Linked DNA regions of Homo sapiens. The gene in region 1 interacts genetically with each later gene. Each region holds a gene or a part of one and is shown on either strand. Other genes may lie near its edges.

Region 1 (3,825 bases):
GGCAGAAGAACTGCTTGAACCCAGGAGGCAGAGGTTGCAGTGAGCTGAGATTGCACCACTGCACTCCAGCCTTGGTGACAAAGGAAAACTCCTCTCCAAAAAAAGAAAAAAAAAAAATACAGCCTGGTACAGTGGCTCACACCTGTAATCCCAGCACTTTGGGAGGCCGAGGCAAATCACCTGAGGTCGGGAGTTCAAGAACAGTCTGACCAACATGGAGAAACCCTCTCTACTAATAATACAAAATTAGCCAGGTGGGGTGGCACATGCCTGTAATCCCAGCTACTTGGGAGGCTGAGGCAGGAGAATCACTTGAACCCGGGAGGCAGAGGTTGTGGTAAGCTGTAATCGTGCCATTGCACTCCAGCTTGGGCAGCAAGAGTGAAACTCTGTCTCAAAAACATAAAAAAATAAGACGGACGTGGTGGGGCGCACCTGTACTCCCAGCTACTCGGGAGGCTGAGACAGGAGAACTGCTTTAGCACAGGAGGCGGAGGTTGCAGTGAGCTGAGATAGAGCCATGGCACTCCAGCCTGGGCAACAGAGTAAGACTTTTTTTTTCTTTTTTTTTTGAGACGGAGTCTCGCTCTGTCTCCCAGGCTGGAGTGCAGTGGCGCGATCTCAGCTCACTGCAAGCTCCGCCTCCTGGGTTCACACCATTCTCCTGCCTCAGCCTCCCAAGTAGCTGGGACTACAGGCACATGCCACCACGCCCAGCTAATTTTTGCGTTTTTAGTAGAGACGGGGTTTCACCATGTTAGCCAGGATGGTCTTGATCTCCTGACCTCGTGATCCGCCCGCCTCGGCCTCTCAAAGTGCTAGGACTACAGGCGTGAGCCACCGTGCCTGGGTGAGACTTCATCTTAAAAAAATAAATAATAATGTGCCAGGTACAGTGGCTCACGCCTGTAATCCCAGCACTTTGGGAGGCGGAGGTGGGCGGATCATGAGGTCAGGAGTTCAAGACCACCCTGGCCAAGATGGTGAAACCCTGTCTCTACCAAAAATACAAAAATTAGCCAGCTGTGGTGGCAGATGCCTGGAATCCCAGCTACTCCGGAGGCTGAGGTAGAGAACTGCTTGAACCTGGGAGGCAGAGGTTGCAGTGAGCTGAGACAGCACTACTGCATTATAGCCTGGGAGACAGACGGAGACTCTGTCTCAAAAAAAAAACAAAGTAATAATAATAATAATAATACATAAAGTCAAAGTTTCCAAGAACCTACCAAAGACGTTAAGTGAGAGCCTAGTGTAATGGCATAAATCTTCTATGGGCCCTTTGTCACAATGCCCTCCTTCCCCTGCCTTATCTCATCCCATAATTCAATGAGCATTAGTTAGCTACAATAAAAAAATCTGGGCCGGGCACAGTGGCTCACGCCTGTAATCCCAGCACTTTGGGAGGCTGAGATGGGGGGATCATGAGGTCAGGAGATTGAGACCATCCTAGCTAACACGGGGAAACCCTGTCTCTACTAAAAATACAAAAAAATTAGCTGGGCGTGGTGGTGGGCGCCTGTAGTCCCAGCTACTCGGGAGGCTGAGGCAGGAGAATGGCGTGAACCCAGGAGGCGGAGCTTGCAGTGAGCCGAGATCGCGCCACTGCACTCCAGCCTGGGCGACTGAGCAAGACTCCGTCTCAAAAAAAAAATAATAAATAATAATAATAATAATAATAATTTGGGAGACATTAACTAACATCTGCCAAGTCTAATGACTTTAAAGACTGATCTACTTGGTTCATTCCTAAGTCTTTTCTACTAGACTACCCTGCCCCTGACCACAGAACATAGATGTTTTTCTTTACTTAGAAACGTTACCTAGGGGCTGGGCCAGTGGCTCATACCTGTAATTCGAATACTTTGGGAAGCCGAGGAAGGAGGATTGCTTGAGCCCAGGAGTTACAGACCATCCTGGGCCACACAGTAAGACCCTGTCTCTACAAAAAAAAACTAGGCTGGGCGCGGTGGCTCACGCCTGTAAACCCAGCACTTTGGGAGGCCAAGGCGGGTGGATCATGAGGTCAGGAGTTCGAGATCAGCCTGGTCAACATGGTGAAACCCCATCTCTACTAAAGATACAAAAAATTAGCCAGGCATGGTGGCGCACGCCTGTAATCCCAGCTACTTAGGAGGCTGAGGCAGGAGAATTGCTTGAACCTAGGAGGCAGAGGTTGCAGTGAGCCGAGATCACGGCACCACCGCACTCCAGCCTGGGCAACAGGGCAAGACTCCATCTCAAAAAAGAAAGAAAAATTAGCCAGGTGTGGTGGTTTGTGCCGGTAGTCCCAGCTACTTGGGAGGCGAGGTGGAAAGATCACTTGAGCGAACCCTGGAGGTCGAGGCTGCGGTGAGCTGTGACTGCATCATTTGCACTCCAGCCTGGGCACAGTGCGAGACTAACTAAAAAGAAACAAAACAACCACCCAGGTGTGGTGATGGGAGATTGTAGTCCCAGCTACTCAGGAAGCTTGGGCGGATCACTTGAGGCTATGAGCCAGGAGTTCGAAGCTGCAGTGAGTTATGATCATGCCACTGCACTCTAGCCTGGTCAACAGAATGAGACTATATCTCTAAAAAACAGAACACACACACACACATACACACACACACGAAACATAACTTAGCATTGTACATTATTCAGGGTACTTCATGTTGCCAAACTATGAGTTCCTTGGGCTAAACACAAAGTAATAGAAAAACAGGGGACTTGGCCAGGTGCAGTGGCTCACGCCTATAATCCTAACACTTTAGGAGGCCGACGCAGGTGGATTATCTGAGGTCAGGAGTTCAAGGCCAGCCTGGTCAACACGGCAAAACCCCATCTCTACTAAAAATAGAAAAATTAGCCGGGCATGGTGGCAGCAGGCGCCTGTAATCCCAGCTACTCAGGAGGCTGAGACAGGAGAATCGCTTGAACCGAGATCACACCGGGCAATGGACTGAGACCCTGTCTCAAAAAAAAGAATTCCCCCTACTGCAACCCTACTGTCCTCTCTCAAGCTTCCTCTTACATGCTACTGCTGGAGATAGAAATAAGACTTCTTAGCCTGAAGTGAACTATCATTCGAAAGCAAAACAGGCCAATTTCCAAGAAGTTGCTAGTTTATACCTTCCCTAGTTGAGCTATTATTAAGTATTTCCTGTATAAGCCCTTCTCTTCCATTTCCTGCTAGGTCAGAGTCAACAAATATCCGGTTTTTATCAACAGGTTTAATTAAGCAGATCACTTACTATGTCAGCAAGATGGGCCAATATGTGATGATACCTTTGACTAAAGTTAGAGTAGGCCGGGTGTGGTGGCTCAAGCCTGTAATCCCAGCACTTTGGGAGGCCGAGGCGGGCGGATCACAAGGTCAGGAGATCGAGACCATCCTGGCCAACATGGTGAAACCCCGTCTCTACTAAAAATACAAAAAAATTAGCCGGACATGGTGGCGGGCGCCTGTAGTCCCAGCTACTCGGGAGGCTGAGGCAGGAGAATGGCATGAACCCGGGAGGTGGAGCTTGCAGTGAGCCGAGATGGCGCCACTGCACTCCAGCCTGGGCGACAGAGCAAGACTTCGTCTCAAAAAATAAATAAATAAAATAAAATAAATAGAGTAGGCTAGTGCTTCTCCAGACTGCAAGCAACTGAAACTTCAACAGTTTTCTTCCAGACATCCCAGAGTACATTAGTTCCCTTCCATATGCTTAAATGATCCTCCATCTTAAGAAAAACTCAAGTCCGTGATCTTAAAAATGAGACTAACTTTTCACGTCATTCATGCAACATGTTAATAGCTGCCCGAAATAGCTGTTTTCAGCAGTAGCCCAAAAGGCTCTC
Region 2 (2,954 bases), on another chromosome or scaffold:
AACTGAGAGAATCAGAGTCAAATTGTCTCAAGAGGGGGAGGGCAGGATTTCTGCCACCAGATTCTGTCTAAATTCATTCAACATTTAATGAGTAACCACTGGCTATCAGTATCAGGTGGACAGAAATGAGTAAGGTGTCTCTGTTCTTGGTAACTTAAAAGCTGGTGATAATAGGGTAGTATATAAGGCAGTGTTTCCCATGGTAGGATACATGTCTGCATACCACTGTCTGCAGTAAGCAACCCCAATGTTCCTGGGGTCCGAGTCATCTGTCTATAACAGAAAAAGATGAATGAGAGATAAGCTCCGCTTTCAACAGGCTCTTTTTGGAAATAATGGCATTATTAGCATCAGTCTGAGATGCAGAAACAGCAGCGGAACTTTAGGGGGAAATTGCCAGGCTACCAGTTGTCCCTTCCCCAGATTCCCTATAGACTAGGAAAGAGAAAAGCCAGGCAAACTATATAGTCAGCCCTCTGCATGCTCATTTATGGGCCATTCACCCCCTAATGTTTCCAACAAGGGCTAAAGGAAGAGTCAGGATAGGAAAGGAGAGTGGTATGAACAGGAGCAGTGACCCTAAAAACCAGTCATGTGAGGTTCAGATGTACAGGGCCATTACACCTGCCACCACCCAGAAGTGCTATAAAAGTTTTTTTTTTTTTTTTTTTTTTAAAAAAAGGGAGTCACTTAGAGAAAACTATTACGTAAATAATACTATGAGCTGTATAAGAATTTGGCAGAATTACCAGAGACACAAAATGACAAATTATAAAATAAGATTTATACAACTAAACAACACATAAAGGCATTATAGTATTGCTCAATGAAAGACACAATAATTAGTACCATTATGATCAGAGAGAAGCAATCAATTCCAGTGAAGATGGTTAGGTACGAGGTTCAAACAGACTTATTAGGCTGAGTCTAAATGAATGAACAGAATAGGCTAAAAGTACTCTTAAAAAAGCAAGCAGTAAGCAGGGAGGAGCTTAAGCAAGGACAGAGATATCCAAAGCATAGTCAGAACACAGTGAAGCCACTTTTAGTAAAAGATTCTCAGCTCTTTATTTTTGTACATAGAAACTACTTGCATTTATCTAGGTTATTATATATTCCTGGAAAAATAATATAGGTTAGCTAAACTCCAGTACTCCACTGTAGATATGAAAATACCATTTTTGATGTACAGTCTCCAACTTAAAATGGTTGACTTACAATTTTTCAACTCTAACGTGATGCAAAAGTGATATGCGTCCAATAGAAACCATACTTTAAAGTTTGATTCTTTCCCAGGCTAGAGATATGTGGTACAACATTCTCACGATGCTGGGCATCAGCTCAACTGATACTCTACAGTGTGCCGTATTGCCAGATGATGTGCCCAACTCTAGGCTAATATAAGTGATTTGAGCATGTTTAAGGTAGGCTAAGCTAAGCTATGTTGTCTGGTAGATTAAGTGTAGTAAATGCATTTTTAACTTAAGGTATTTTCAACTCATGATGGGTTTATTGGGATGTAACTACACGGTAAGTTGAGGAGTATCTGTATAGCTATAGGGCAGTAACTACCATATTATCACAGCTTTGAGACACTTGATAGTGATAAATGCCACACCATGACAGGTGTTTCATATCTCTAACTTTCTCTAGATCTCCTAAAACCATTTAAGAGGAATAAAGCATCCTCCCTGCCTTACGCCCTCTAGTTGGACTTCTATTACTGGTTTAGCAAATTCCAAATAGGCAAAATGGCAAAAAAAGAAAAAAACAAAACAGTAATAGAGAAGAAAAGATGAGTCAACTAAGTAAATTAATTGAGGGGAAAATTACAGTTACAGAAAAACTGAAAAGAAAAAAGATTCTCATTTTTATATCCTGGAAAGACTAATTCTTTAAAGCAAAATAAGGAACAATGAGCATTATTATCAAACAGTCCTTATTGTGCTTTTAATTACATCTTTTGTTTTATACTAGAAAATAATACTCCCTCAAGTTATTTTATGTACTGATACTTTGAAACAAATAGTATAATTGTTTAGGTGTCCAAATAAATCATTCTAATTGTAGCACAGCATTAACTTGCCTATGACTTTGAAAACAGTATTACTTTTTCTCACCGATACAATAAGGAAGCTGGACCAGATGACATATGAAGTTTCTGCCAGTTCTAAATGTTAATGATGCCACATTACTTTTGTAGACAATCCACTACTTCTTTTCCTCTATGTTAGACTTCTAAAATCAAAGTTTTCCTAAATATGGTGGAAAGTTTCCAAAATGTGTCACATTTTAGAATTATTAAAATTCAAATCCACTTCTAAGAACTGAACATAATTTCCTTACAAATAAAAAGTCCTTTATTTCATATCAACCATGTTCCTAGAAATATGAAAGTATTAATTAAAATCTGGAAGTGTATAAAAACCTTAAGCAACAGTTAATGAAAGTAAAACTACAAAAACAGTCTCTACTAACTTAGAAAGTTGAAGTTTTTTATTAGGAAAAGACATTAGAATAGGAAATAACGTAGATTACCTCTTTTTTGATGATCCTCTGCAATAATAGCATTTAAAAATATAACTACTTTCCTCTGTATAATATCCGTACATAATTGCTAACTTTCCTGAATTTCCAAAACTTTTGTATTTAATGACTTTCAAATACATGTCCAAGGAAATGTTTCATTTACCATTGCAAACATTGATTTATTAAATAAAGTAGAAGTCCAGGCTTTATAAAAGTCAGCATTACATTTCTCACAGAGAAATCAAGAAAAAAAATTTCCTATCAATCACAGATAGTTATCAGCAGTCTTCGTGAAGTCTTCCAACTAATATTTCATTAAAGAAATGAAGTGGGAGCTGCATTTACAGATGAGGCTCGTGCTTTAGCCATTCTCCGAACCAGTGCTTCTTGTCTTTTTCTCTGAATTTCTTCAGGAGAACACTTTC

The links.
Region 2: changes in LSM12 (region 1) and ETAA1 are lethal when combined (synthetic lethality), as found in Homo sapiens cells (one large-scale study listed by BioGRID).

Annotation. Positions count from the first base shown.
Region 1 is NC_000017.11:44,056,596-44,060,420, forward strand, and holds part of LSM12 (protein LSM12), read right to left. Parts: intron 1-3,825. UniProt on the Homo sapiens protein: Nicotinic acid adenine dinucleotide phosphate (NAADP) binding protein. Confers NAADP sensitivity to the two pore channel complex (TPCs) by acting as TPC accessory protein necessary for NAADP-evoked Ca(2+) release.
Region 2 is NC_000002.12:67,409,929-67,412,882, reverse strand, and holds the end of ETAA1 (ewing's tumor-associated antigen 1), read right to left. Parts: coding exon 2,845-2,954; 3' UTR 794-2,844; downstream 1-793. UniProt on the Homo sapiens protein: Replication stress response protein that accumulates at DNA damage sites and promotes replication fork progression and integrity.